Linked DNA regions of Homo sapiens: region 1 is linked to region 2. Evidence: fine-mapped expression QTL. Tissue or cell type: whole blood. Region 2 holds a variant in brackets; the other region holds the start of a gene. Each region is shown on its reference strand, or each on the opposite one.

Region 1 (15,275 bases), not on the chromosome of region 2:
ATGGGGTTTTGCTATGTTGGCCAGGCTGGTCTCGAACTCCTAACCTCAAGTGATCCACACGCCTCAGCCTCCCAAAGTGCTGGCTGGGATTACAGGTGTGAGCCAACACACCCAGCCTAATTCCTTTAGTTTAATTTTTTTTTTTTTTTTTTTAGACAGAGTCTCGCTGTGTCACCCAGGCTGGAGTGCAGTGATGCAATCTCGGCTCACTGCAACCTCCGCCTCCCAGGTTCAAGTGATTCTCCTGTCTCAGCCTCCCAAGTAGCTGGGATTACAGGCGCACACCACCACACACAGCTAATTTTTTGTATTTTAGTAGAGACGGATTTTCACTGTATTGCCAAGGCCTCCCAAAGTGCTAGGATGACAGGCGTGAGACACCACGCCCGGCCTAGAACAATTGTTATTTGGGTCACAGAACCCGCTGAGTATCTGATGGAAACTACAGATTCTCTCTCCAGAGAAGTGTACACACACAGGATTTAATGAGCTCCTCCTGTCTGAGGCAATAGGTTAGGGAACCAACTCTTGCAGAGGCAACCCCAGCCCTGTGTTTCTCCCCAGCCCTTCAGCAGGTCTGAGATGGGCAGGGTGAGGCTTGGCTGCCAGGCCCTGAGATATCTGCAGGTTCCTAGCCAAGAGGATTACTCCTGTTTCCCCACTTCCCAACTCCCTCCTCCTCACTTACGGCATCCAGTGGGGCTGACATGGGTCTCGGGTCTGTTTGGCAAGAGCTGAGGCTTCAGAGCTGGGCACAGTGGCAGAATTCACAGCAACTGAACTCTTGTTTGTACCCCCCAAAGGGCTGTGGTCTCTCTCAGCCCCAGCAAGACCCGAAATACACCTCAGGAGGCTCTGCTCGCAGGCTGTTTGCTTCCACTTTCATTTCCGTGAAATCCCTGCCTTCTGGCGCTCACATGCCGCCCCCTGCCGAGGCTTCCCCACCCCTGGGAGGAGCCTTCTTGGTCAGCAAAGTCGACTTCACTCAGCCAGGCTGCCTCAAGGAAAGCCACCTCACCCCAACTGCAAACTGGCCCCCATCAACCATTCCCAGCAATCTCCGACAAGCCCATTGGTAGACCCTGCTTTGTCAATGGATTATTTCCCTAGAGCCTAGAATAATGCTGGGCACATTGAACATTGATAAAATAATTGCTGAATGAGCTGGGTGCGGCGGCTCACACCTGTAATCCCAGCATTCTGGGAGGCCCAGGCGGGCAGATCACCTGAGGTCAGGAGTTAGAGACCAGCCTGGCCAACATGGTGAAACCCCACCTTTACTAAAAAAATACAAAAATTAGCCGGGCGTGGAGGTGCATTCCTGTAATCCCAGCTACTTGGGAGGCCGAGGCAGGAGAATAGCTGGAACCCGGAGGCAGAGGTTGCATTGAGCTGAGATGGTGCCATTGCACTCCAGCCTGGGTGACAAGAGTGAAACTCCATCTCAAAAAATAAATAAAACAATAATTGCTGAATGAATGAGAAACACAGTCAGGACAGATAACGCCCATAGTTCAAGTTCACAAAACTGCCGGGTGCGGTGGCTCACACCTGTAATCCCAGCACTTTGGGAGGCCCAGGTGGGCAGATCACCTGAGATCCCAAGTTAGACACCAGCCTGGCCAACGTGGTGAAACCCCGTCTTTACTAAAAAAATACAAAAATTATCCGGGTGTGGTGGTGTATTCCTGTAATCCCAGCTACTTGGGAGGCCGAGGCAGGAGAATAGCTGGAACCTGGGAGGCAGAGGTTGCATTGAGCCAAGATCGCGCTGTTGCACTCCAGCCTGAGTGACAAGAGCGAAACTCCATCTCAAAAAATAATAATTGCTGAATGAATGAGAAACACAATCAGGACAGATAAAGTCCACAGTTCAAGTTCACAAAACTGCCAGGCGCAGTGGCTCATGCCTTGTAATCCCAGCACTTTGGGAGGTCCAGGCGGGTGGATCACGAGACCATCCTGGCCACCATGGTGAAACCCTGTCCCTACTAAAATACAAAAAATTAGCCGGGCCGGATCACACCACTGCACTCCAGCCTGGGCAACAGAGTGAGATTCTGACTAAAAAAAAAAAAAAAGTGCCAATCCCAGCAGCTGGGCCCACTGGTAACATGTGCCTATAGTTCCAGCAGGTTGAGGCAGGAGGACTGCTTGAGCCCAGGAGTTCGAGGCCAGCCTGGGCAACACAGTGAATCTTGTCTCTTAAAAAAAAAAAAAAAAAAAAAAAAAAGGCTGGGTGCAGTGGCTCACGCCTGTAATCCCAGCACTTTGGGAGGCTGAGGCGGTGAATCACTTGAGGTCAGGAGTTTGAGACCAGCCTGACCAACATGGGGAAACCCTGTCTCTACTAAAAATACAAAAATTAGCCGGGCGTGGTGGCATGCGCCTGTAGTCCCAGCTACTCGGGAGGCTGAGACGGGGGAATCGCTTGAACCCGGGAGGCGGAGCTTGCAGTGAGCCGAGATCGTGCCACTGCACTCCAGCTGGGTGACAGAGCGAGACTCTGGCTCAAAAAAAAAAAAAAGAAAAAAGTTCACAAAACTGTTAACAGTGGCCAGCAAGGAGAGCTATCGTCTGCCCAACACGCTTGTGCCTTACATGAATTAACTCTTCAAAACAATGCCATGAAGTTGGTTCTATTTTCTTCACTTTACAGATGAGAAAATTGAGGCACAGAGCATTAGAAACTTGCCCAAGGTCACAGGGCTAGGAATCAAAGCATGGATCCAAACCTGGTAGGAACAGTATTTACACTTGGGCCTTGAGGTAGAGTGGAAAAAAATTTGCTGTATTTTTCCTCAAAAGTTTTAAATTCAGCCCCATTTCTGTGACCCTGAGTAGGCAAGCTACTTAATAGAAGTCTGTCTCAATAGAGATGCCTTAATACTTAAGTGTGTGAAGATTCAATTAAAAAGTTTCCTGGCTGGGTGCAGTGGCTCACACCTGTAATCCCAGCACTTTGGGACGCCAAGGTGGGTGGATCATGAGATCAGAAGTTCAAGACCATCCTGGCCAACATAGTGAAACCCCATCTCTTCTAAAAATACAAAAATTAGCTGGGTGTGGTAGCACACTCCTGTAGTCCTAGCTACTTGGGAGGCTGAGGCAGGAGAATCGCTTGAACCCCGGGGCGGGGCAGAAGTTGCAGTGAGCCGATAGTGCCACCTCGCTCCGGACTGGGTGGGTGAAAGAGCAAAACTCCATCTTAAAAAAAAGTGGCTGGGCGCGGTGGCTCACGCCTGTATTCCAGCACTTTGGGAGGCTGAGGTAGAACGATCACAAGGTCAGGAGATCCAGACCATCCTGGCTAACACGGTGAAACCCCGTCTCTACTAGAAATACAAAAATATTAGCCGGGCATGGTGGCAGGCGCCTGTAGTCCCAGCTACTCGGGAGGCTGAGGCAGGAGAATGGCGTGAACCCGGGAGGCGGAGCTTGCAGTGAGCCGAGATCGTGCCACTGCACTCCAGCCTGGGCAACAGAGCAAGCCTCTGTCTCAAAAAAAAAAAAAAAAAGTTTCCTAGTAACCTAGCCCAAAGTTTTTTCCAGTTACTCACCAATCCTACTTTTGGCCCCTTCCCGCCACCCCGCCCCCTCTGGTTCCCAAGTGCAAGTGTGGTACCTAGCAGACTTGGCAAACTGGCCTGTTTGAATCTTAGTTCCCTCTAGCGACAGAACCATTCAGATGGAGCACCTATTTCATTCATGAAACATGACTAGTTACAGTCCATTGAGAGATAAAATGCCAGATCCTAAGAACCAAATGTCTCTCCTGCACTACACAGTAGTGGCACAACCCAATGCCCCAAAGCTCCTTTGATCACTTTCTTTCAAGTCTCTGCCAGCCAGGCCATTTGAGGAGCACTCCCTTGTCCTATTAAACAGCTGCTCTAGGCTCAGGGATTCACCAAAGGCATCTGTCGTTACCACCAGGAGCAGGTCTCCAGGGTGGTCCCCATCTCACCTACACCAGTACCAGTGTCACCTGAAAACCTGCTAGAAACTCAGACCTACTGGATCAGTCTGAGGGCAGGATTTCAGCAATCCGTGGTTTAACAAACCATCCAGGTGACCTCTATCTGTGCTAAGGTTTGAGAATTTCAGGTTAGTGGTTCTCAATCAAAAATACCTGATCCCCACCACTCAGGGGCCTTTGGTTGTCACAAGGAGGGGCAGAGTGTGTGTGGCAGAGGTTCTCCTGGCATGTAATGGGTAGAAGCCAGGGAGGCTACACAATTCTTCACAGGGATTATCAGGCTAAGGACAGAGGCAGCATAAATCTCATTAAGGCAGATTTAACATTTTCCCAGCCCCTCATCCATCACCCAGCGTCTTTTTTTTTTTTTTTTTTTGAGATGGAGTCTTGCTGTTGTCAGACTGCAGTGCAGTGGTGCTATCTCAGCCCTCCCTGCAACTTCCGCCTCCCGGGTTCAAGCAATTCTCCTGCCTCAACCTCCCGAGTAGCTGGGACTACAGGCGTGCACCACCAGGCCCAGATAATTCTTAGTATTTTTTAGGAGAGACAAGGTTTCACCATGTTGGCCATCTCTTGACCTGGTGATCCGCTCGCCTTGGCCTCCCAAAGTACTGGGATTACAGGCGTGAGCCACCGTGCCCAGCCCACCCAGTGTTTCCTATTCAATAATGTTCTCCTTTTCACAGTCTGGTAATACATACAGCATGCAGACACAGGCTTTTTTTCTTTATAATTTTTAATGATCAAAACAAAGCATCTAAAACCGCAGTTTCTGGAAGAACCACTTGTTCTTGCCTGTCTTGTATCTAGAAGGGAAAAAAAGAGGACACCAATGAGGAAAGGAATGGAAATAGTGAAACCATACTCCACCATTCACTACCAAAGCCTACTTACCTCTCTTCAAACTTGACCTTGGCCTCCCGTCGGGCCTTGCGTTTAAGAGCAGGATCTCTGAAGACATCCTTATTGACGACAGTTTTGTCCAAGGGGATATCCACAGAGTACCTGGGGACAAAGGTGGAGAGGCAGGATTAGCCCACATACTGCCGGGGCCCCTATACAGCCCAAATCCTTGTGGGACACTAGGGAATCAGGGTCTGACTCCTTAGAAGCAACCATCAAAAGCCATGTCCCGATGACATTATCTGAAAATTCACACTTTTTTTTTTTTGAGACGGAGTCTGAATCTTTCGTCCAGGCTGGACTGCAGTGGTGTGATCTCAGCTCATTGCAAGTTCCGCCTCCCGGGTTCACGCCATTCTCCTGCCTCAGCCTCCCGAGTAGCTGGGACTACAGGTGCCCGCCATCAGGCCTGGCTAATTTTTTGTATTTTTTTAGTAGAGACGGGGTTTCACAGTGTTAGCCAGGACGGTCTTGATCTCCTGACCTCGTGATCCGCCCGCCTTGGCCTCCCAAAATGCTGGGATTATAGGCGTGAGTCACCGCATCCGGCCTGAAAATTCACTTTTAACATTTATTGGATTCAAGCCAATAAAATGTAAAATTCAATGTTTCATTCTCAATTTCCCACAACTACTTTATTTTTCTAGCTAAGAATCATCAAATGAGGCCCTCCCCCACTTTTTGAGACACAGTCTCGCTGTTGCCCAGGCTGGAGTGCAGTGGCGCAATCTCGGCTCACTGCAACCTCCGCCTCCTAGGTTCACGCCCTTCTCCTGCCTCAGCCTTGCGAGTAGCTGGGACTACTACAGGCGCCTGCCACCATGCCTGGCTAATTTTTTGTACTTTCAGTAGAGACGGGGTTTCACTGTGTTAGCCAGGATGGTCTCGATCTCCTGATCTCGTGATCCGCTTGCCTCGGCCTCCCAAAGTGCTGGGATTACAAGCCTGAGCCACTGTGCCCGGCCAAATTAGGCCTTCTTGACTTTCATCATGACAGTTAGCTAACTTTCTACTTGAAATCATTTCCTTATTGTTCAAGTTCTGCCAATGCAGTCACTCTCATGACAGCCCAAACACTAGCTGCCTCAACCCCACCACATCCCAGCACCCAAGAAACAGCTCTCTCTGCCCTTTTATTATTATTTTTATTTTTTGAGATGGAGTCTCGCTCTGTCACCCAGGCTGGAGTGCAGTGGTGCCATCTCAGCTCACTGTAGCCTCCACCTCCCAAACTCAAGCGATTCTCCCACCTCAGCCTCCGGAATAGCTGGGATTACATGTGCCAGCCACCATGCCCAGCTAATTTTTTTTAGTAGAGATGAGATTTCATCACGTTGGCCAGGTTGGTCTCGAACTCCTGACCTCAAGCGATCCACCTGCCTCGGCCTCCCAAAGTGCTGGGATTACAGGCGTGAGCCATGGTGTCCGGCCTCTCTCTGCCCCTTTAGGTCAGCCAACCCAGAGTAAATGTGCAATACCAGCAGCAAACTTTAAGGTGCATGCTGCTGGGTTCTGGCAATTATTGTTCAGGACTTTCTCAATTCTCGCACCTCTTTTGCTGGAGGTGCAGTGGTGTGATCTCGGCTCCCTGCAATCTCCACCTCCCAGGTTCACCGTGTTAGCCAGTGCGGTCTCGATCTCCTGACCCTGTGATCCGCTCGCCTCGGCCTCCCAAAGTGCTGGGATTGTAGGCGTGAGCCACTGTGCCCGGCCTTGCACCTCTTTGAGACGGAGCTTTGCTCTCCTTGCCCAGGCTGGAGTACAATGGTGTGATCTTGGCTCACTGCAACCTCCACCTCCCGGGTTCAAGCGATTCTTCTGCCTCAGCCTCCCAAATAGCTGGGATTACAGGATTACCATGCCCAGCTAATTTTGTATTTTTAGTAGAGACAGGGTTTCACCATGTTGGTCAGGCTAGTCTCAAACTCCTGACCTCAGGTGATCCATCCGCCTTGGCCTCCCAAAGTGATGGGATTACAGGCGTGAGCCATTGTGCCCGGCCTCTTGTACTTCTTAAAAAACACTTGTACTGGCCGGGCACGGTGGCTCACGCCTGTAATCCCAGCACTTTGGGAGGCTGAGGTGGGCAGATCACGAGGTCAGGAGATCGAGACCATCCTGGCTAACATGGTGAAACCCCGTCTCTACTAAAAATACAAAAAAAAAAAAATTAGCCAGGTGTGGTGGCAGGTGCCTGTACTCCCAGCTACTCGGGAGGCTGAGGCAGAAGAATGGTGTGAGATCCCGCCACTGCACTCCAACCTGGGCGACTCCGTCTCAAAAAAAAACAAAACAAAACAAAACACTGTACTAAGACAGTGTATGTCCCCAGACTAAAGGGCCCAACAGGTGAGTAAAATTAATTGGGGAAGACTTGCTTTCACGCACTCACAGACTTTTTGAAACCTATTGTATTTATCCTTGAGGGTGGAACAGTGGAAGAGGGCAGATCAGACCCCATGCCTGTGTTTACTGTGGATGGAAAACAATCTTTACCCAACACTTAAAAGATGGATCAAAGGCAAAACTGGAAACCATAGCCACTTTATGAGTTGAAGATGAACATTTTGGAAATGATATCCCTTCCTGGTGTTGGAATGGCTGCAAGGTCTGTCTCATTATTCAACAGAGCAGGGAGAAGAAATTTAAATTCTAGTTCTTGAAATGCTCACCTTGTGGGCATTAGGTGATTGTAGTTATACACTTTCACAAAAGATTTTATCTTTGATCTCTTGGCGATCTTCTTCTTGCCCATGGCAGCTGTCACTTTGCGGGGGTAGCGGTCAATTCCAGCCACCAGAGCATGGCTGTAGGGGCGATCTGAGGTGCCATCATCAATGTTCTAAATGAGTAAGAATTACATTTGTTATTCACTGAGGGCCTATTTAGGCCCTGTGTTAGAGGTAGTGCAGTGTCCAAAAAATATTTCCACCCTCAGGTCTCCAAGATCCACCATTATAAAGAGAAAAATCACAGAAAGCTATGAGAAATGACCAAAGAGAAACAGAACAGTGTTTATCTCCATCAGGAAGCATCTGGAACGGCTTACTAGAGGTAAGAGATTTAAAAGTAGCAACAGTTAACATTTAAGAAGTACTTGCTATATGCCAAGCACTGCTCACAGGACTTGGTATCTATTCACTTGCTCCACTGCTAGTGAAGTGTACAGCCAAGGTTAAGACACCACAGCCTAACTCCAGAGATCAGTCTCAGGAGATGGGAGAGGGGAATCCAGGGGTACTCCAGTGTCCCCACAACAACAAAACGCAGTGGTGTATGTGGCCAGAGCCTAGGGAACTCTCTCAAGAAGCTACAAAATCATGGATAAGAGGAAAACAGTGAGGGGCTATGTGACCTTTCTAAAAGCAATTTCCTCCTCTTCTTACAGATTCCCAGCTGCAGCACTTCAGGTAAATAACAGAACACCTCCAAACCTTAGCAACAGGAAGGAACCCCCTATAGCTGGGGATGGTGGCACGCACCTGTAGTCCCAGCCACTCGAGAGGCTGAGATGGGAGACTCGCTTGAGCCCGGGAGGTCGAGGCTGCAGTGATCACGCCACTGCACTTAGCCTGGACAGAGATCCCGTCTCAAAAAAAAAAAAAAGAAAAGAAAAGAAAAGGAATCCCCTATGATTACTTCAAGGACTGCACATGACAATACCTGAAAGGCAGTGGGAGCACATAGCAAGCGTGCAATGTCAGCCACTATTACTATATATTTAAAGCCTCTGGTGGAGAAGGCTTTATGCGTTGGGAGCCCAATTCAGCTCACATTTGCTTTTACTGTGCTTCTTCCTCTCTCAAAAACTCTCCCACGTTCACCCTGACCGTGCTCACTGGCTACTGCCCCAGAAACAGGCCTTGAATTCCAAGCCTGCCCGCCCCGCCGCAGCCAGCCTGGTCCCGGCATGCAAGGACGCAGAGTCCCGCGAGGCTGATACCTTCACGATGACAGCTTTGCGTCCGGAGTAGCGTCCAGCCAGGACAAGCACCACCTTCCCAGGTTTCATGAACTTGCCCATTTCTGCAGAGAGCAAGGAGAAAGGGCCACTTAAAAATCCGTAAAGCCAAAGATGCCCAGAGCTGACTCCTGCCAGCAAGCCCAGGTCTTGGGCCGGAACTTCAGACTGTGTTCACTGTCGCCTTGGTCAAGGCCGCCCGAGGGCCCTGCTCGCAGGACAGGATCGGATACGTAGCCGCCAGAGACCTAGGGAAGGAATGCACCCGGCGCCGCCCGGACCTTCGACCCCCAAGCCGCGGATGGCAGCGGATTGAAAGATTCAACCCAAGCTTCTACTTACCGGCAGCAACCACCCGGCCCTACCAGCAAAAAGGAAAGAAGGACACTTCCGCTAACCTTTCACCCCGGTGAGGAGTGACCTCACTTCCTGTCCCGCCCTTCAGGCTTTGCCACGCTGATTGTGTGGTGCTGAGTCTCGTGTTGCGGGCGGAAGAAGCTCATGAGGGAAACGCAGGGCGCGGCAGCTCAAGTATTCGAATGAAACTTTATTAGCAGCTCCAGCAGTAGACAAGAGCAAAGGAGACTCCTCCCGGCCGACGGAAGAGCTGGGAGGGCGACTGTGCTGTGCGCTCTGGACTCAGCAGCTAGGCTTTGTTGTAGTTCCTTTCTCTGGCGCTAGGAGGGGGAACACAATCTGAAATTTACTTTTTCTCTTGGGAGACACAGGGAAAAAAATAGGGCATTTATTGGTGCCTGTCGGGGGCACTGTTAGCTAAAGAGGGAGGGACAAAGATCAGTAAGGGTGGCTGGTCCGATAGTAGTGGGTTATCAGAACTTATCAACGTTAGGGTCACTAAAGTTGGTATACAACCCCCCACTGCTAAATTTGGTTTTAAAAAAACAAACAAAAAGGATATTTACCCCCAACAGTTAAAGTCTAGTGGTGTCACTGACATTACCAACTAGAATAAGCATGAGGGAGGTAGAGGAGAAGAATGGCAGCTGCTTACCCTGTGCCAGGTCAGGTTAATCTATTTATGCACATCATCTGATTTGGTCATCATAACACTAAGAAATAGATACTATTATCTCCATTCTAGAGTCGAGGAAACTGGCTTAGAGAGATTTGCCCGAAGTCTATAGTGGTTAAATAGTGGAGCTGGGGCTCAGCCTCAAGCAGTTCAACTCCTGAACCCATACTGTTTACCATGTCACCATCCTGAGCAGCGATTCTCTCCCAGGCAAGATGTGAGCACTTTATACAAGCCGGCAGCCTGTTTAATCCTCACAACTCTGCATCTTGGGCATTCTCCTCCCATTTAGACATGAGGAAATTGCAATTCAGAGAGGATAAATTGCTTGTCTGAGGTTAATCCTAATCAGTGGCATAGATGGGATTCAAATCTAGGTCTGAATCTAGGTCTAGTTGGCTCTCAAACTGAATTATTTCCCATCACTCACCAGAAGAGTGTTTTCACATGGTACCTTATGTGCTTTCCGAGTTTAAGGGAAAGATAAACTATCTCACAGTTTTTGCTTATCTGAACCTATAGGATTTGTCTTGGGCAAGATGTGGAACAACCAGGATTTCATCAGTTCTCTCCTGAAGCTCTCCAGTGATACAATTTTCCCTGTATCCCTCAGGATCCCATTGCAATGGCTTTTGTTTTGTTTTTTGAGACAGGGTCTCGCTCTGTCACCCAGGCTGAATGGTGTGTAGCACAATCATGGCTCACTGTAGCCTCAACCTCCTGGGCTCGTGATCCCCCCACCTCAGCCTCCTGAGTAGCTAGGACTTCAGGTATGTGCCACCATGCCCGTGTAATTTGAAGAAAAAAACAAAAACAAAATCAAAGAACTTTTTTTTGGTAGAGATGGGGACTCACTATATTGCCCAGGCTGGTCTCAAAAACTTCTGGGATTAAGTGATCCTCCTACCTGAGCCTCCCAAAGTGTTGGGATTACAGGCGACGCAGCACCGTGCCCGGCCCCATTACAATTTTTTTTTTTTTCAGACGGAGTCTCATTTTGTCACCCAGGCTGGAGTGCAGTGGCGCGATCTCAGCTCACTGCAACCTCCACCTCCCGGGTTCAAGCGATTCTCCTGCCTCAGCCTCCTAAGTAGCTGGGACTATAGGCTCCTGCCACCACACCCGGCTAATTTTTATATTTTTTGTAGAGATGGAGTTTCGCCATGTTGGCCAGGCTGGTCTCGAACTCCCAGCCTCAAGTGATCCGCTTGCCTCGAACTCCCAAAGTGCTGGGATTACAGGCATGAGCCACCACGCCTGGCCTCCAATGGTTTTTAAAATGTCTTTTTCTTATATATTTCATTTTTTAAAGAGATGAGGTCTTGCTATGTTGCCGGGCTTGAATGCAGTGGCTATTGACAGGTGTGATGTAGCTTCAAACTCCTAGCCTCAAGCGATCCTCCCATTTCAGCTTCCCAAGTAGCTAGGACTAAGCCACCTTACCCTCCAAATCAAATCAGTAACTAAATCCTCTGAATTTTGTCTTATGTCTTTTATTTTTGAGATGGAGTCTCACTTTGTTGCCCAGGCTGGAGTGCAGTGGCATGATCTTGGCTCACTGCAATCTCCGCCTCCTGAGCTCAAGCAGTTCTCCTGCCTCAGCCTCCCGAGTAACTGGGACTACAGGCGCATGCCACCACGCCTGGCTAATTTAGTATCTTTAGTAGAGATGGGGTTTCACCATGTTGGCCAGGCTGGTCTCGAACTCCTGACCTCAGGTGATCCACCCACCTTGGCCTCCCAAAGTGCTGGGATTACAAGCGTGAGCCACCATGCCCAGCGGGATGCTTGTTATTTTTTTTGAGACGGAGTCTCCCTCTCGCTCCCAGGCTGGAGTGCAGTGGCGAGATCTCGGCTCACTGCAAGCTCCGCCTCCCGGGTTCATGCCATTCTCCTGCCTCAGCCTCCCGAGTAGCTGGGACTACAGGCACCCGCCACCACGCCCAGCTAATTTTTTGTATTTTTTAGTAGAGACAGGGTTTTACCATGTTAGCCAGGATGGTCTTGATCTGCTGACCTTGTGATCCACCCGCCTAGGCCTCCCAAAGTGCTGGGATTACAGGTGTGAGGCACCGCGCCTGGCCCCCGGGATGCTTATTAAAGAAGTATCTCCAACCTCAGAGATAGTCATTCTGGTCTGGAGTGGAGCCATATGATCTATAGATCTTATTTTGAGCAACAGCTTTAAACAACTCTTTTTCTTGAAAAGTTCTTCACTTTTCTTGAACTCCATTGTTGGCTTATTCAATAGTATGAACTTTCACTCCTTTCCTTCCTTACTACCTTTCCTGCAGCATAAATTTCTGACTCCCCCACCCTTCACATACCCCCTGGGCTGTTCCTTGTGTCTTTTTCTTCCTCTCCAAGTAACCAGGCAAAATCCTATTCAAATTCTATCCATCCTTCAAGGTTATTCCAGAATTCTCCCAGGCAGAATTAATCTCTCCTTTCTCTGGGCTCTCTCAGCAATCCAGTCTGTACTTACCTTTATTAGAGAACATAATCTTAGTTTGGATATGAGTGGTTCTCATCTCAAAGTGTGGTTCCCAGAGCAGCAGCATCACCATAACCTAGGAACTTGTTAGAAACCAAATTCTCAGGCCCCACCCCAAAACAACTCAATAAAAAACTCTGGGGATGGGACCCAGCAATCTATATTTTAACAGTCTCTCCAAATCTCCAATTGGTATGGTATCTCCTTTGCTAGACTGTGTTTGTTGAGGGCACGGGGTAGGTTTACTTTTCTCTTTCTTTAGCATCTAGTCTAGGCAGGCAGTTGCTAAGTGATCAATAGTGAATGAATGATTGGAGAGCACCTTAGACGGCTTTAACAATACTTTGCAGATCATACTTGTACAACACACCCTACATTTCCACTGCATACATATCCGTGGCTCTTGACCCTTCCATTCTTGCATATCCTTGGATCTGGGTGGACTGGCCTGCCTCTCCTCCCTTGTCCTGTCTCACCCTAAGTGAAGGACAGAGCTCTGTTCTCAGTAATGACAGATGATATCAGAGCTTAGCAGATATCTGACTGCAGGGATGCTGATGGAATTGTTGGGTTGTCTCAGTTGATACACACATTTAGGTTTCAAGAACTTAGACATGAAAGTCATGGCTGCCGGCCTGTCTCCCTGCAGCCTTGTCCTTTGGCAGCTGAAATTTCTGGCAGTTGTGTAGAAAATACCTTCTCCTCCCCAAAGTGAGGGGAGGAATGAGGGTGGTGGATAAAGGAGAAAGAGAAACCAAAATCTAGAAACAACATGATACAATGAAGTGAAAAGATAGACTGTGGGCTCTGGATTCAGAAAACTTGACTCCAAATCTCAGGTCTTCCATCATCATGTAAACCAGGACAAAATATTTAACCTCTCTGCAGTTCAGTTTCCTCAGCTGTAAAGTGGGGATAATACTGTCCCACTTTGTAAGTAGTGAGAATTTAATTAGAATGAGACAAATGAAAATGCTTCCTGTAATGCTAGCACAAAGCCTTAATACAAGTTTTGTTTTTGTGATTTGAAAAAGGCAATACTGGGGTGATCGCTGGGCTACGCCATATGGCTATACCAGTTACCACCCAAAGTGATATCCAGACAAGTGGATTTAAAAGTGCCAATCCTGGCTGGGTGTGGTGGCTCACGCCTATAATCCCAGCACTTTGGGAGGCTGAAGTGGGTGGATCACCTGAGGTCAGGAGTTCGAGACTAGCCTGACAAATGTGGTGAAACCCTCTCTATTAAAAATACAAACATTAGCCAGGCGTGGTGGCAGGCGCCGGTACTCCCAGCTACTCAGAAGGCTAAGGAAGGAGAATCGCTTGAACCCAGGAGGCGGAGGTTGCAGTGAGCTGAGATCACGCCATTGCACTCCAGCCTGGACAACAGAGCGAGACTCCATCTCAAAAAAAAAAGGTCTCCATTCCAAAAGCAGCATGTGTGATGACATCTGTTGTGGGGAGGGACTACAGGCGTGGGCAGGAGGAGATGGTCATGCCAAGGGGACTTTTTAGTGAATTTTTTCAGGCAAAAAACCCCTACTACCACCACCAAAGCTGAGATGATCCGTAACAGAGGACAGAGGATACAGGCAGTTTTCAAAAAAATATTGATCTGGATCAGATGGGCTGATAAGGCCCAAACACTTATAAACCAAAGCTGCAGATCTCTAAGGTCTTCAGAGAAGCTACACAAAATACTATGATTTCATTAGCATCCACATATGTATCATTTTCCACAACATTTTACAATTCTCTTGTTTCACAGGGAAGGTGAACTAATTATAATGAAATATCAGTAATGTATCTTAAATAAGTAACATGTTGCTGGAAAAAATTTAAGTTAAAATGCACTACATAATAGTGCAGAAACAAAGTGCAGGTGGCAATTTTAAGACATGAAAACAATGCTGAATCAGTAGTGTTTGGAGTGATACATTTTGCCCATTTTTGGCCAGTCCTAGAACAGTACTCACCACAAGCTGCATGCCAAATATGAACTAACGAGGCTAAAACACTGAAGACCAAATAGAACCACTCTAGAGTCTGTTTCACAATGAGATACTCCTCCCCGTTCTGGAAACAGCGATCTGCTGTAGTTCCTATCCTCCTGTGGCACCTATCCCTGCTACAGTACCTATAACCAGATGTCCTCCATCATCCAGCCTCCAGGACAAGTGGTGCTCAGTGAGTCACAACCTGAGGAACAGCTGCTGGTTACCGATTTGTATTCCTGTATATACTCGACTTGGGTAGCCAGGATTTTCTCGTTTGTCTTGAATATATTTACTTCTAAAAAGACTGTTAGTCTTGTTGGGAGGTGAGCAGAGGAATGTTTACTTGCTGGAGAACATAGTAACAAACATCACTTCTCACCCCTCATAAACAGAAAGCCCATTGTCTGTGCCATGAAAAGAGGACTACCTTGTCAGGAAGATTTTACTTACCTCTACAAGAAAAAGGACTCGTATTAAAATCGACCTGTGGTTACCACCCTTAGAAATGCTGTTTTCAGATATTCCTATTCCTAGTCTTAGAGGCAGCCATGGAATATATAGTCTCCTCTGACCTTGGGGTCAGGAAGAAAGGGAAATCTATTCATAAAAGGAATTTAAATTCTGGCCTAGGCCTCTCAAACCTGCTTCAAGTGAAAGAAGATAGCTTAACTAACAGGAGCCTCAAGTTGAATGTCTTTTTTTTTTTTTTTTTTTTTTTGAGATGGAGTCTCCCTGTGTTGCCCAGGCTGGAGTGCAATGGCATGATCTTGGCTTACTGCAGTCTCCACCTCTCGGGCTCAAGCGATTCTCCGGCCTCAGCCTCCTGAGTAGCTGGGATTACAGGCATGCACTACCCCGCCTAGCTAATTTTTGTATTTTTAGTAGAGATGGGGTTTCACCATGTT
Region 2 (15,275 bases):
AAATTTTTCATTAGCGCATTTCTTTTTTTTTGAGACAGAGTCTTGCTCTGTCACCCAGGCTGGAGTGTAATGGCTTGATCTCGGCTCACTGCAACCTCCGTCTCCCAGGTTCAAGTGATTCTCCTGTCTCAGCCCCCTGAGTAGCTGAGATTACAGGCGCCCACCCCTGAGCCCAGCTAATTTTGTTGTATTTTTAGTAGAGATGGGGTTTCACCATATTAGCCAGGCTGGTCCTGACCTCAGGTGATCCATCCGCCTCGGCCTCCCAAAGTGCTGGGATCACAGGCGTGGGCCACTGTGCCAGCCTCATAATGCATTTTTTTAAAAAGCTAGAAAAAGATTTGGGTTGAGAATAGAGTTAGCGATGTTCATTCCACCTGTAATCCCAGGCTGCGTAGGAGCTCCGATGTGATGGACGCTGCTGTGGCTGAGAGAGAGGTGTCGGTGGGTGGGCTGCCCCTGATCCAGGACTGAGCCAGGAGGGCCTCTGATCCCAGATCTGGAGTTGAGAAAGGGGAGTTGACTGCTGGAGGACCCATTTTTTTCTCTTATATCAGTGGCTGGCTGGGAAACCTGGGGTGCCTTTTCTTGATGTTGCCCCGCGCTCGCTAGCCCATGGAAGGCACACTAAACAGCAGAAGAAACAGAAGCTCCCACCCCACTTGTGTGTTTGTGGCTACCTAGCAGTTCTTGCTACTCTATTGTAGGGTGTGAGAAACAGTGATTACGGTAGAGTTTGTGATGTTTGTTTTTCTCAAGATCAAAACCCCATCTCCCCTCTGTTAACATAAACCATCAAAAGTCGATCTGTATTTAATTTTCCTTGGGTGGTCCTGGGTTGACATCTTGCCCTTTTGTCTTACCATAAGAACTTGGGAACCCAATCCTTTGTTCCATCTGCTCTGAAGACAGCCCACCTCCCGCTGCTGGCCTGGCGGTTCCAGCATGGATTCTGTGTTTTGAAACCTCATCTAAAGTTACAGGGAACAAGAGATCCTTACATTTCAAGTGAGCATTCTGAGCGAAAAGCATGTGTCCTGGCCACATTCGTGCACACTGGTCTGCATTCATGAGAAAGCCCGCAGAGCAGGAGCGAGGCCAAAAATATGACCCCTCCCTGCCCCCATGTCTTAAAGCCTCCCCTGCATTGAACAGACTGTCCTGCTGCTTGAAGAGGGGTAAATGAAGCCCACTTTGGAGAGAAGGAACAGGGCTCTGATGGCTTGCGATCTGGCTAGGGCTTGCTCTGTCGCCTGCCTGGCCCATGGTGGCTTCTTCCCTTCTTCCCAAAGTGGAATTCAGGGGAACGGAGTGTCGAGACAAAAACTGCCGTAACAGCTCCTGGAACCTGAGCTCACTGCATTTTGAAAGTGCCTCTGCAAGCTGGAATTCTTCAGGGAGGCCACTCCTTCAATCTGAGCACAGATGCATGACCAATCTGACCCTTCTGAAGCACGTGTTTCTCTGGCACCTGCAAGGCAGGGCTATCCCAGAAATGCAGAAATGTACACAAGCCCACGTGCTCGCTTGCTCACATGACCAATCGCAACCCACAGGGGACACCTAGAGCCAATGGAAGGAGCACAGGAAGGCCAAGTGTCCCTCCTACCTGGGCATCTCTCAGCCTGGGACAATCCACTCACTTCACCGCACACAAAAAATGCACCCGCTTGGTGACTACAGGACAACAGTGCTGGAAACTTAGCGGTGACGTGAAACTTCACATCATTATCCTTCTTTTCATTTCCCTGCAGTCTGGAGTCTGGTCCTATTGAAAAATCCTAAAAAGGCTGGATACAAATCATAAAACACAGCTTGCATGCAGAATTACTATGATGTGGGCATCTTGAATTCATTACTCCTGTGGTTTATAGGGTATATTTAAAATGTATACACTAAAGTGAATATAAACTTTATGGTTCATTTTGCCCAAGAGAAAGGGACGGATGAGAGGAAATTAAAGCTGTGCTCTGGCACACTCACCATGGAGCTTCACCCGCTCAAGGCAGCTGATACCGCTGGGTCCTGGAGGTCTGCACAGCGCCCCTTCCCGGGACTACCTCCCTTTGGGTGGTGCTCAGTTCTCCCGGGGCTGACAATTGTGTTCTCAAAGTTTCCCAGGCATCACTTGAAAATCTGCTCATACGAAACCACCTCAGAGCTCGGAGCGAAATTGCTCACGTTTTTCAGGTGTATGGATGCAATTATACAGCTAACAATCTGGGGCTGTTGCTCACCTGTGCATAGGCATTTATCAATCATGCCTAAACCTTCCAGGAGATGGGTCCAGAGATAAACGACTTCAGGTGTGACCATGACATTCAAGGCTGGGAAAGCAGACTTGAAAAGTTTCATTTAAGGGATCTTGATTTTCAGGTGAGGCAGAACCCCCTAATGTAGAGAAGCTCTGATGAAATGCAGGGCAACCCCGGTTGTCGTGGCAGTCTAGCTCTTGTTAAAGTTCTTAAAGTCACTTGTGGTCACTAAGTTGTCTGGATGAAATAAGCAGTACCTGCTAACTTTATGGATAAAATAAATCATAATATTTAAAATACTCAGGATAGTGATTGACACATAGTGTTGTATGCTATTTGTTTCAAAGTCTGGTTTCCAAAGCAATGTCATCTCTCTCCTCTTCTCTCTCTCTCTCTCTCTCTCTGTCTCATCTATGGAGAGACATTGGTTTTGAATCGAGGCCCTACCACATTGCAACTATGCAATTTAAGGCAGGTTAAATAATCTTTCTTTGCCTCAGTTTCTTCATCTGTGCAATAGAAATACAAATTGTACATTGCAATAATATTTTGAGGATTTCATAAGTGACTATTTAAACTCTTAAAGTCTCTATAAAATAAGAGCTGCAGGCTGGGTGTGGTGGCTCACTCTTGTAATCCCAGCACTTTGAGAGGCCGAGGTGGGAGGATTATTTGAGCCCAGGACTTTGAGACCAACCTGGACAACCTAGTGAGAGGCTGTCTCTATTAAAAAAAAAAGAAAGAAAGAAGAAAAACTCTGTAAGTGCTGGGTATTATAATTCTTATATCTGGATCGATGTTAATAATAGTATTTCTGAGTGGTAGAATCATAGATGAATGTCTACTTCATATTATGTTTGGTAAATTGAAGCTTCCCCTGGCTGGGGTACATTTTCTTGGTCTTCCTATGCTTTGTGTGCTTAACCCTGTGTCTGGCTGATAGTAGCTGCTCAATAAATGTTGAACTCAGCTGCTAAGATTGCATTGCATGGGCCAGGTGTGGTGGCTCATGCCTATAATTCCCAGCACTTTGGGAGGCTGAGGTGGGTGGATCACTTGAGCTCAGGAATTTGAGACCAGCCTAACCAACGCGGTGAAACCCCGTCTCTACAAAAAATACAAAAATTACCTGGGCGTGGTGGCGCACGCCTGTAATCCCAGCTACTCAGGAGACTGAGGCAGGAGAATTGCTTGAACCTGAGAGGTGGAGCTTGCAGTGAGCCAAGATTGCACCACTGCACTCCAGCCTGGGTGACAAGAGTGACACTCTGCCTCAAAAAAAAATAAAAAATAAAAAATAAAGACTGCATTACGTAATCAGTACTTCTCCCAGATACCATATCCATGGTCATTGTCTCATGTTTTCATAGCTTTCTAGGAAGTTTCTGGAACAAAATTGGTATGAGATGAAATAAAGCCTAGTAAGTACCAATTCACATGAACATATCCCTCACAAAATTGTGTCTCTTTTTCAAGACTGTGGAGGGCTTAGATAACAGGTTCTGGGCTTGTGCTCTCAAGGGAGGACCCTCTGTAAGCCTGTGCTATGTGATTTGCCATAAAAACAACAAACAAACTACCAGTTAATCATCTGCATATGTGGCCCATGTACTGCTGGCCCCCGGGAATGGTAAGTAAATGGGATTTTTATGGAAGTCAGACCTCTGAACAGGCAGTGAAATTGGCAGTCATGGAAAACATAAACAGCAAAAAACACGATTACAAGAAAGCATTTATGGTATGATTTCATATGCATGTAAAACTACATATATAAATCTTATATGCATATACGTAGGGAATGTCTTCAAATACAAATGGTAGTTATCTTTGGTAGTGGGATTTAGTGCAGTTTTTTCTCTTTGTTTATACTTTTTCTATACAGAAAAAATACACATGATTATATATGAGGAAGAAAAAAATAATCATGCATCAAGGGAACTGATTTGTTCAATAGACTTCAAAAATTAACTGTAAGGGGCTGGGCGCAGTGGCTGACGCCTGTAATCCCAGCATTTTGGGAGGCTAAGGCGAGAAGATCACTTGAGCCCAGGAGTTCAAGACCGGCCTGGGCAACAAAGTGCTACCCCCTACCTCTACAAAAAATTTCAAAATTAGCCAGGCGTGGTGGCACACATCTGCAGTCCCAGCTACTTGGGAGGCTGAGGCAGAAGGATTACTTGAGCCCAGGAGGTGAGGCTGCAGTGAGCTGTGTTTGTGCCACTGCCATCTAGCCTGGGTCATATAGCCAGATCCTGTCTCAAAAATATATATCTATATAAAACAAGCAAACATTAACCATAAGGATTTGAAATCTGTTGTCTAGTAGGTTTTCTAGACTTAGCAAATAACAATACAGGACACCTAGTTAAAGTTTGATAAACAATTGTAAGTATGGCCCCATATAATATTTTGGGCATTGCCTCTTTTTTTTTTCTCCAAAAAATGAAAAGAAATGTAAAGTAGGAGTATAACTTCTTCTACACTTCTACCATTATTTATATTTCTTCTCATTCTTTTCTCTGTAAGTAGGTTTTACATGGTCTGGAGTCATACCTTGTGTGTGCAGTTTTCATTCACTTAACAAGTCATATTGGTTCCCTATTGGGGACCAGGCGCTGTGCTAAGCACTGGGGATACAGTAGGAGTAACACAGGTTTGCTGTTGCCTCTACTCAACATAAAATCATTTTGCACAGTTTTTGCATTAAAAACTTTAAATGGATGCATAATCTGCTATCAAGTTATTATATTCCATTTTACTTAACCAATCTTCCATTGTGGCTTAATTTATTCATTTGTTTGCATATTAGCTTTTTGCTGTTGTAAATAATAGTGCCCTGAATGGATTTGTACATCGAGTTTTCTCATGTTTTTGAATTATTTTATTTTAAGGATAGACACTTAAAAATACTATTTTAGGCGGGGCACAGTGGCTCACACCTGTAATCCTGGCACTTTGGGATGGGGAGGCAGCTGGATCGCCTGAGGTCAGGAGTTCGAGACCAGCCTGGACAACATGGTGAAACCCCGTCTCTACTAAAAATACAAAAATTAGCCTGGCGTGGTGGCGCATGCCTGTAATCCCAGCTACTCAGGAGGCTGAGGCAGGAGAATTGCATCATGAACCCAGGAGGTGGAGGTTGCATTGAGCCAAGATCGCACCACTGCACTCCAGCCTGGGCAAGAGTGAGATTGTCTCAAGAAAATTAAAAAAAAAAAAAAAATTATTTTTAGGCTAGTTGGAATTTCATAATAATTTCTTTAGAAAAGGTTAATTGGCCAGAATGACAAAAAGAATCAAAGCCTATATATTTCCTTTTACTTTATTTTTATTTTTATTTTATTTTTTTGAGACAAGGTCTCATTCTATTGCCCAGGCTGGAGTGCAGGTGCCATCTTGGCTCACTGCAGCCTCAGCCCCCCAGGCTCAAGTGATCCTCCTGCCTCAGCCTCCCAAGTAGCTGGGACTACAGGTGTGCGCCACCACACCTGGATAGTTTTTTTGTATTTTTGGTAGAGACAGGGTTTCACCGTGTTGCCAGGCTATTCTCAAACTCCTGGGCTGAAGCAATCCACCCAGCTCATCCTCCCAGAGTGTTGGGATTACAGACGTGAGCCACTGCATCCGGCCAAAGTCTATATTTCTTTGCCTGCAAATACGTTTAATTATCTTTCCATATATGTGTTCACAAATTTTATTTGGCGGGTTGTCTACTCATTTTGTGGGGAAGGTCTTGGTGATGTTTCTTACTTTATGAAATCATATAAAAAGGCTATTAAGTTTGTATAATATTTATTTTTGCACTTTTCAGCCTATTGGTGCCTTATTTTTGGTTATTGATTTTATTTTTATTTTTTACTTAGGGCAATTTAACATTGTATCTATTAAAATCTGTTCATCTTTTGATTTCAAGTGTTTCTTAGTATAGAATGTCATTTTTCTATCTAGATGTTTACCACCTATTTAATTTATTTTATTCTTTTTTATATTTTAAAATATATTAAAACCTTAAATCATCTGGAACTTATTTTGGTATAGGTTTGTAGTGAATAACAATAGGATTTTTATTCCAGATGACCTATATATTATTCCCAAAGAAAACTGCATTTTTCTTTCTTTCCCTTTGACTTTTATAATGGCTTTTTCTCATGTATTTAATTTTATTGTATAATAAGGCTTATCTTTGGATAAGCCTTGTATACCATTATCACACTGTTCTTTATTATGAAATCTAATAGCATAGTATTAGAAAGTATTATAGTATTATATGATAAAGTATACAGAATGCAAATTATTACAGTTTTACAATATACTGTTAAATGTTAGAGTAATTCTCCTAATTCTAGAGTCTTCTTTCTGAAAAAAATATTAAGTTCTACAAAACTTCCATGGGGATTTGAGTTGGAATAGCAGTAAAGGTATACATTAATTAGATAACAATGGACACTTCTCCACCCAGGGACATGAATGTCTCTATTTATTCAATTCTCCTCCTATCTATATTTGTTAACCAAACCTTATCTTGATTTCAGTTTACATTTCTCTTATGAAGGTTACACATGGGTCTCTCATACCATCATGGCTGGGTCCCACTAGATCCACCCTGATCTACTCAGATCAGCTCCACTTTTGTCTGCTTTATATATTGTCTCTAAATCATCTTTTAGAGTTATGCAATTTAACATGATGTGAAAAATCACTGGACTAACCAATGTGTTAAAATCCCTTCCACTCAGAAAAGCTTGATTCTATTGTCTCCAAAATGCAGGGTGCTTTCTTGCCTCTGCCTTTGCTAATATTGTTCTTCCTCCTACCTGAAGTGGATACCCACTCCAAATCTACATATCCCCAGCTATTTGGGAGGCTGAGGCAGGAGGATTGCCTGATCCTGCAGAGGTAGAGGCTGCAGTGAGCCCTCCAGCCTGCACTCCAGCCTGGGCAACAGAGTGAGACTCTGTCTTAAGAAGAAAGAAAGAAAGAGAAAGAAAGAGAGAAACACAAAGAAAGAAAGAGAGAAAGAGAGAAAGAAAGAAAGAGAGAGAGAAGAAAGAAAGAAAGAAAGAAAGAGAGAGAGAGAAAGAAAAAGGAAGGAAGGAAGGGAAAAAGAAACAACAGGACCAGCCTGGGCAACACAGCAAGACTCTATGAAAATTTAATTTAATTTAACTCAAAATAATAATAAATAAAATATATAAATAAAAAAAATAAATAAAAATAAACACCTTCATCAATGTCGCTCCTAAATCTTTTGGAGATTTCATGTATTACTGACAGACACACTCGTGGTTAGCATGAACAACTTAAGATTTACTGAAACATCCAGATTTATCCTGTGAAAATACAGTTAACTTCTTATATTCCAGTGAGTGAAAAGGCATGGATTTGAAGATTTGTCCACAGAGTGATGAATGGCTGTACTCTCAGTTTCTATCTGTGTGAAAATCTACTCGTCCTCACAGTCACAAGTTCTTTACATACTAGAAAATGTGTGAGAGATGGAGGTAAGGGGTGGCAGCTGTGGAGGCCAAAGTGGGTTTTTTTTTTGGTTTGTTTACCAACTAGATTTTGCTCTGGTTAAGACCGCATGGTACAAACCAAGAGAGATTTGTGTTTTCCCGTGTAGCAAGACATTCTAAATAAATGTTCCTTGAAGAGGGGACTTTTACAAACTTTGGCCTGGAACTTTGGCAAAAATCCAAAAAAAAAAAAAAAAAAAAAAGAAGGAGTGGACAGGAGCAGCATGGAACTGGGCTGGGGGGTGGAGTCAGCAGTTGAGCTCACAGCAAACAGCTTTTGAAGGTATTTTTTCAGCTCTTCTTTGTATTAATATAAGATATAAAGAAAAGCAACCTTTTTTGAGGGTCTGCTGTATGTCTGAAGTGCCCCCCTAACCAAGTCTCAGTGTGTAACCTCAATTTGACAACTGTTGGATACAAAGCCTTAGGCTAAAAGTCTATAATCCCACAGTCTGTAATCCCCTCCCTCATCCCTCTTGCCCCATTTATCAGGGCATCCATCTGAACTTCACAAGGAAAAGAACTTGGTACCTTTGGCCCCTTCTCAACCATATAAAAGCACCAAAGCAGGACAATGTAGGGATAGAAAGTATCTTAGAAACTACTAGTTTGCCAGGGCTACCAAATAATGTATGCCAAACTGGGTGGCTTAAAATAACACAAACACATTGTCTCAGAGCTCTGGAGGCCAGAAGACTGAAGTCAAGGTTTTACCCATGTTCTCTCTGAAACCTGTAGGGAAAAACCTTTCCTTGCCTCTTCTAGTTTCTGGTGTTTTCCAGCAATCCTTGATGTTTTTCGGCTTGCAGCTGTATCACTCCACTCTCTGCACCTGTCACCACATGGTCATCTTCTCTCTTGTTTCCCTGTCTCTGTCTCTGTGTCTCTTCTCTTCTTCTTCTTCTTTTTTTTTTTTTTTTTTTTTTTTTTTTTTTTTGAGGCAGAGTCTTGCTCTGCCACCCAGGCTGGAGTGCAGTGGTGTGATCACAGCTTGCTGCAACCTCCGCCTCCAGGGTTCAAGCGATTCTCCTGCCTCAGACTCCCGAGTCGCTGGGATTACAAGCGTGCGCCACCACGCCCAGCTAATTTTTGTGTTTTTCTTAGAGACAGGGTTTCGCTATGTTGGCCAGGCTGGTCTTGAACTCCTGAGCTCAAGTGATCTGCCCACCTCGGGCTCCCAAAGTGCCGGGATTATAGGCGTGAGCCACTGCACCAGGGCCAGAACTTTTAATATATCTCTTGCAGGGAGGGGACACAATTCAACCGGTAAGAGAGAGCATCTTCTTCC[G/A]CTCATTCCTTTTCGTTTGGTTTTGAGGAAAGTTAGGATCTCAGAGGTTGAGTTGGAGAGTCAATCTGTATGAAATGGTACATTATTATTCTTGGCAGTCCTAGTTTCAGGAGACTGGAAACCCATCTTGCTCTAGAGTAGGCTGAAAGGAGTTCTTGGATCACAGAACCTAAAGAAGAATGAACCATCCGACTGTGAGAGGTCCTCATTCCAGCCTGGCTTCCGAAGCTACTAGAACTAGGGGCGCCAGTGGGTCAGGATGTTTCTTATTCTCTTATTTGGGCTTCATTCTCTTTTGAAAGGATTTCTTTTAATGGTAGGTAACGTAGTCAGTTCCCAAGTTTTATCCTGGGAGTTCTTAGTTCTAGAAAAGGATTGCCTTCAAGGCTGGATCCCAAAGGCAGATGCCCTTGGGGAGAGAGCTGGTGGCCCATGGGGATAGGCGAGCTTGATCTTGGACCAGTGAACTTCCACCAGAGGAAGGGAGCACCATAAAAACAGGCCAGTTTCTGACCAGGCACAGTGGCTCACGCCTGTAATCCCAGTACTTTGGGAGGATGAGGCGGGCGGATCACTTGAGGTCAGGAATTTGAGACCAGCCTGGACAACATGGTGAAACCCTGTCTCTACCAAAAATACAAAAAGTAGCCAGGCATGGTGGTGCATACCTGTAATCCCAGCTACTCGGGAGGCTGAGGCAGGAGAATCACTTGAACCCAGGAGGTGGAGGTTGCAGTGAGCCGAGATGGCGTCACTGCACTCCAGCCTGGGCGACTGAGCGAGGCTCTGTCTCAAAAATAAACAAATTAAAAAAAGGGCAGTTTCTGCAGGAGTCTCACAGGGGAAGACAAGGGGAACAGGAGGCTGAGGAGACAATATGAGAGATGTCCACTATAAAAAGATAATTCAAGGGCGAAAATCCAATTTTTATGTAAATTATCCAGATGGGCTCCAATGCTTATTCATATTCACCAAAGAAATTGCTCCGTTCTCTATTTTATGTCATTTAGGAGATCAGGTTTATGTCTGTGCCCCAGGGAAAGGACCCATGACATTTACTACATTTGAATTCAAATAGTAATTTTAGATTAATTTGAAAATTGATTAGGTCAGATGTTTCTACAGACATGTTTTTGCCCTTTTATGCTATAGGGGGTCAAATATCCATTTATGGGTCCAGGATTTATTTGTAAAAACAGACTTTCAAGTCAATTACTAACATCCACTGGAGTTTAAACATGACCATTTTTAAAGTGCATATTTTCTCAAAAATATCCTTCTTTTAATTTCTTTTAAAGCATTTGTTTATGAGAAACAGGTAACTATGCAAACTCTAGGACTGTCATAAATGAATTAAATGTACTTATTTCTGGATTATCACTACTGATTGTCAGGCTTAATCAGTTAGAAAGTAAAAGTAATTTTTACCTCTTTCTGCTAAACTAGAGGACAGAGTGAGTATGGGAAGATGACCTTTTTCCTAGCAAAACGGCAAATTCTCAAGGTCCTAAATGACAGATTGCTCTCCTGAGTCCCCGGCTTGGCTCCCAGTTGCCAAAAGGCCATCTTCATCGGGATATGTGCGGACACCGCACACTCAGCTCGTGCAGAACAACTTCACCCCAAGGCTCCTCCAGCACTCGCTCCGTCAATGCCATCATCATCATCCATGCTGGGCAAACCTAGGACCCAGACTCCTCTTTCTTTTCCCCCCTTTCCCTGCCTTCCATGTGTCCTCCAAGTTTGACTCAGGACACTACCTATGTCAGTGGTTTCCAAACTTGTCTGAGGATCCGAATCCCCTGAAAGACTTTTTTTTTTTTCTTGAGATAGCTGGAGTGCAGAGCTGTGACGTTGGCTCACTGCAACCTCCGCCTCCTGGGTTCAAGCAATTCTCCTGCCTCAGCCTCCCGAGCAGCTGGGATTACAGGCACATGCCACCATGCCTGGCTAATTTTTGTATTTTTTGTAGAGATGGGGTTTCACCATGTTGGCCAGACTGGTCTTGAACTCCTGACCTCAGGTGATCCACACGCTCAGCCTCCCAAAATGCTGGGATTACAGGTGTGAGCCACCGCACCCGGCCCTGCTAAAGGACTTCTAATGAATTCAGATGTGGAGTCCCCTCCCTAGAGACTGAGTCAGTACATCTGGAAGTAGCCTGAGCATCTGCATTTTAAAGTCCTCCCCAGCCTCCTAAGGCGATTTAATAATGACCAGGATTTAGGACCAGCTGTCCTAAGCATCTCCATCCCCACTACTGCTGCCCTGGTTCAGCCCCCAGCACCTGCAGCCCCGCTTCTGCACTCAGGCTCTGCATTCTCTCAGCCATCCTCTACCGCATTCAACAATACCACAGCACACACATTGAATGCCTATTTTTTTCCAGGTACTTTGTTAACCAGTGGAAGCACAAAGATGAACAAACCATACTCCTCCCCTCAAGACAACTCTTTCGTGAGGGAGATAACCCAGGAAATAGGAGTCTATTCATGAGACCGCTGCTCTAACTAGAAGAATAGGAAGTACCAGAAGGTCACAAAAGAGGAGCTGATTAGCTCAACCTGAGAAAGTCTCCCAAAGCTTCACAGCGGAAGGAATGCTGAAGTGGGGATGAAGAGGTGTTGATCAGAAAAAAAGTAAGGATGGGAGGGAGGGAGAGGACATTTCAGACAGTGCTAAGCATGGGGGTAATAGGACTACACTGGTTTTTTTTCTTTGTTGACTTGTAGTAAGCGTAGTTTCTGTTCTTATAGGCAAATGTTGGGTTCCTTCTTTCTTTTTCTTTTTGTTTTTGTGGATACATAATAGGTCTATATTTTTATGGGGTATATTAGATTTTTTTTTGAGACAGGGTCTTACTCCATCGCCCAGGCTGGAGTGCAGTGGTGCAATCTCAGCTCACTGCAGTCTCCGCCTCCCAGGTTCAAGCGATTCCCCTGCCTCAGCCTCCCAAGTACCTGGGACTACCAGGTGTGTGCCACCATGCCCAGCTAATTTTTGTATTTTTAGTAGAGATGGGGTTTCAGTCCTAGCGCAGTGGCTCACACCTGTAATCCCAGCACTTTGGGAGGCCCAGGTGGGCGGATCACAAGGTCAGGAGATCGAGACCATCCTGGCTAACACGGTGAAACCCCATCTCTACTAAAAATACAAAAAACTAGCCAGGCGTGGTGGTAGGCGTCTGTAGTCCCAGCTACTCAGGAGGCTGAGGCAGGAGAATGGCATGAACCCAGGAGGCGGAGCTTGCAGTGAGCCGAGATCAAGCCATTGCACTCCAGCCTGGGCAACAGAGTGAGACTCTGCCTTAAAAAAAAAAAAAAAAAAAAAAAGATGGGGTTTTACCATGTTGGCCTGGCTGGTCTCGAACTCCTGACCTCAAGTGATCCACCCGCCTTGGCCTCCCAAAGTGCTGGGATTACAGGAATGAGCCACCACATGGGGCCCATTCCGTGCTTTACAACTCCCAGCTGTGGCAGTCAGCTAGGCAAGCCACTTAACCTTTCTGAATCTGTTTTATCATCTTGTAAACCAGGTTTAATAATAATTACCAAGTAGGCTTGAGGATTTAAAGAGAAAAATGCTTATTAAAACATTCCCAGCCTAATGTTCTCTTTCTTGACATGGGTGGCTACACAGGCATCTGCTTTGTGAGAATTCATTGAATTGTATGTTTTTTTGTGCACTTTTCTGTTTGTGTGTTGATGTCAATTAAAAAGATGTCAATTAACAATTGTCTAGCTTGCTGGCGTCTTAATAAATGTTCTAGATATTGGTTCTCTTTCCTCCTTGTTTTTTCCTGTTGGAAGCAGATTACCAGAGCTGGGTTGGATGGCTAATGCAGGAATGACATGCCAACATTTGCAAGAGGTGGAATGTGCTGTTACATTGAAGTACAAAGAGCAGTAAGATGAAATTTAATAGGAACCAACATGCAGGAGGTTCAAAAAGAAACAGCACAAGTAATGAGTGGAAGATGTGATTTAAGAGGAATTATGAAAAAGCTCAGAGATTTTAACTGACGCAAACGTAATCTGAGTCAACAGCCCAGCTTTGCCACTAAACTCTGCGACCCTCTGCAAAACAAGCAAGCGGATAAACCCAAACTGTAACCAAACCAAAACAGAAATCTCAATACAAGGTTAGGTTTCTGTAGTGGGGTAATGCTCAAATCCTAGAAATAAATACACCCATTGATTTCTTCATCCATCAGATCATATCTACATTGTAGGCTTTCAGTCATGGAAGCCTCTTCTTAGGATGGGCCTAGACCATTGACCATGTCCAGAGTTCAGTGACTAGAATCCTGAGAGATCTTAAAACCATGGCTGGGCACAGTGGCTCACACCTGTAATCACAGCACTTTGGGAGGCCAAGGCGGGCAGATCACTTGAGGCTAGGAGTTCGAGATCAGCCTGGCCAACATAGCAAAACCCTGTCTCTACTAGAAATACAAAAATTAGCTGGGTGTTGTTGGCTCACACCTGTAATTCCAGCTACTCCAGTGGCTGAGGCACAAGAATCGCTTGAGCCTGGGAGGCGGAGGTTGTAGTGAGCTGAGATCGTGCCACTGCACTCCAGCCTGTGCAACAGAGCGAGACTCTGTCTCAAACAAAACAAAACAAAAAACAAAACAAAAAACCCTCATGTCAATCATATAAAGATCTGGAGAATTTTTAGCTTTAAGAAAATATTTGGAGGCTGGCTGGGAGGGCTTCACATATTTGAAAAGATTTTGTCAAGAGTGATTGGATTTATTCTATGTAGTTCAATAAAGGAAAACAGTTCAACAGGTGAAAGTCTGGAGAAGCGTATTTTGGGCCATTTTAAGGAATGAGGTAGCTCATGACTGGGGCTACCTAAAAATGGAATGGATTCCCTGCCTGTTGCTGGCAGTATTTAGCAGAGGCTCTGTGGCTACACATCATGGCCATTATAGATTGTATTTTTATTTTAGGTGGGATGACAGATTATATGCCTCTGTTACGGGTTAAATTGTTTCTCCAAAAAAAGATAGGTTGAAGTCCTAACCTCTAGTACCTGTAAATGTAACTTTATTTGGAAATAGGTGCTTTGCAGATGTGATCATATTACGATAGGGTCATTAGGATCCAGTAAGACTGGTGTCCTTATGAGAAGAGACACATGGACAGGGAGAAGGCCATGTGGAGACAGGCGTGCAGAGGGGAGGTGGCCATGGAGCACCGGAGGCAGAGAAATGTGTCATGCAGCCGCAGGCCAGGAACGCCAAGCATTGCTGGCAACAACCAGAAGGCGGGAGAGAGAGCACAGCTCTGCTGACACCTTGATCTCAGACTTGCAGCCTCCAGAACTGCGAGAGAATACATTTCTGTTGCTTTAAGCCACTCAGTTGGTGGCACTTGGTTTTCCTAGCAGCCCTAGGAAACGATTACAGCAAAACCCCTTCCCTTTCACAGCCTTCAAATCCTTATTAGCCAGATGGCAACAATACAGGCAGGCCTGCCCCACCAAGTTATCTGACATACAGATTGCTCCGGCCTTCTGCAGCCACCCCCATGGTGACCGTCTTGCCCCTCAACCCTCTTGTCCTTGGCACCCCCTCAGCAATGCCCATGACTGCTGAGTGCCTGGGAGACCCTGTGCCCCATTTTGCCCTTCCCTTCTAGCCCTGCTTTCAAGCCCAGTGTTGCCCAGGGCTCTGAGTCTGGGGGCTCTGCGAGGCCCACGGTGGAGGCCAGCCAGCTACAAGAGCTCTGTCTTGCTGTCTGTAACAATCAATAGACATTGAGATCTCTAGCCCCCGACAGAGGGAAAAGGCTTTCTGAGATGCAAACAACTCACCTACAAATGAACTTCTGGAATACACCGTCATTTGTGAGTGCAGGAACAGTCTGTGTCGGACGCTCGGGCCCAGTTTGTAGATAAAGTTGTAGCAACACAGCATATTGTAACATTCACCAGTCCAGAAAGGTGCTGAGAGGGCTCAGAAAGCAACTCATTTTTCCTCCCACTGAAACTCAGGAATGTCCTTTGAGGACTTTTGCTGAGATATGCGAATGATTTGCTTTTCAAAAAAACTGTAAGTCAGGACCTCCGTGTGATTCTCACCCAAGTCCTTCTTATCATGTGCAGAACTTCTCTGGGTGCCTGATTCTCTCTGTGGTGGCAAAGAGACGGGGCCTGTGTGGGCCAAGGCGCAGAGCCAGAGAGGGAGGGTTTGGGGCGTTCTCCCAA

The links.
Region 1: it holds the start of RPL27, and the variant in region 2 is fine-mapped to the expression of RPL27 in whole blood (TOPMed, PIP above 0.99).

What each region holds. Positions count from the first base shown.
Region 1 is chr17:42,992,382-43,007,656 of GRCh38, reverse strand. RPL27 (ribosomal protein L27) reads right to left here and starts at 9,238. Exons shown (of 5, transcript NM_000988.5): 1 at 9,186-9,238; 2 at 8,826-8,908; 3 at 7,555-7,724; 4 at 4,874-4,984; 5 at 4,698-4,785. The coding sequence starts at 8,906. The coding sequence ends at 4,737. It overlaps LOC124904006 (a long non-coding RNA gene), which reads left to right and starts at 7,724. Exons shown (of 2, transcript XR_007065759.1): 1 at 7,724-7,936; 2 at 8,271-14,872. It overlaps RUNDC1 (RUN domain containing 1), which reads right to left. Exons shown (of 5, transcript NM_173079.5): 5 at 12,515-15,275. It overlaps IFI35 (interferon induced protein 35), which reads right to left and starts at 873. Exons shown (of 7, transcript NM_001330230.2): 1 at 689-873. The coding sequence starts at 709. RefSeq lists enhancers at 704-1,013, 8,777-8,886, 8,957-9,196, 9,207-9,516, 8,482-9,681.
Region 2 is chr6:151,147,312-151,162,586 of GRCh38, reverse strand. LOC124901432 (a long non-coding RNA gene) reads left to right here and starts at 11,617. Exons shown (of 4, transcript XR_007059813.1): 1 at 11,617-11,698. The variant G/A (reference allele first, on the strand shown) is at 9,060.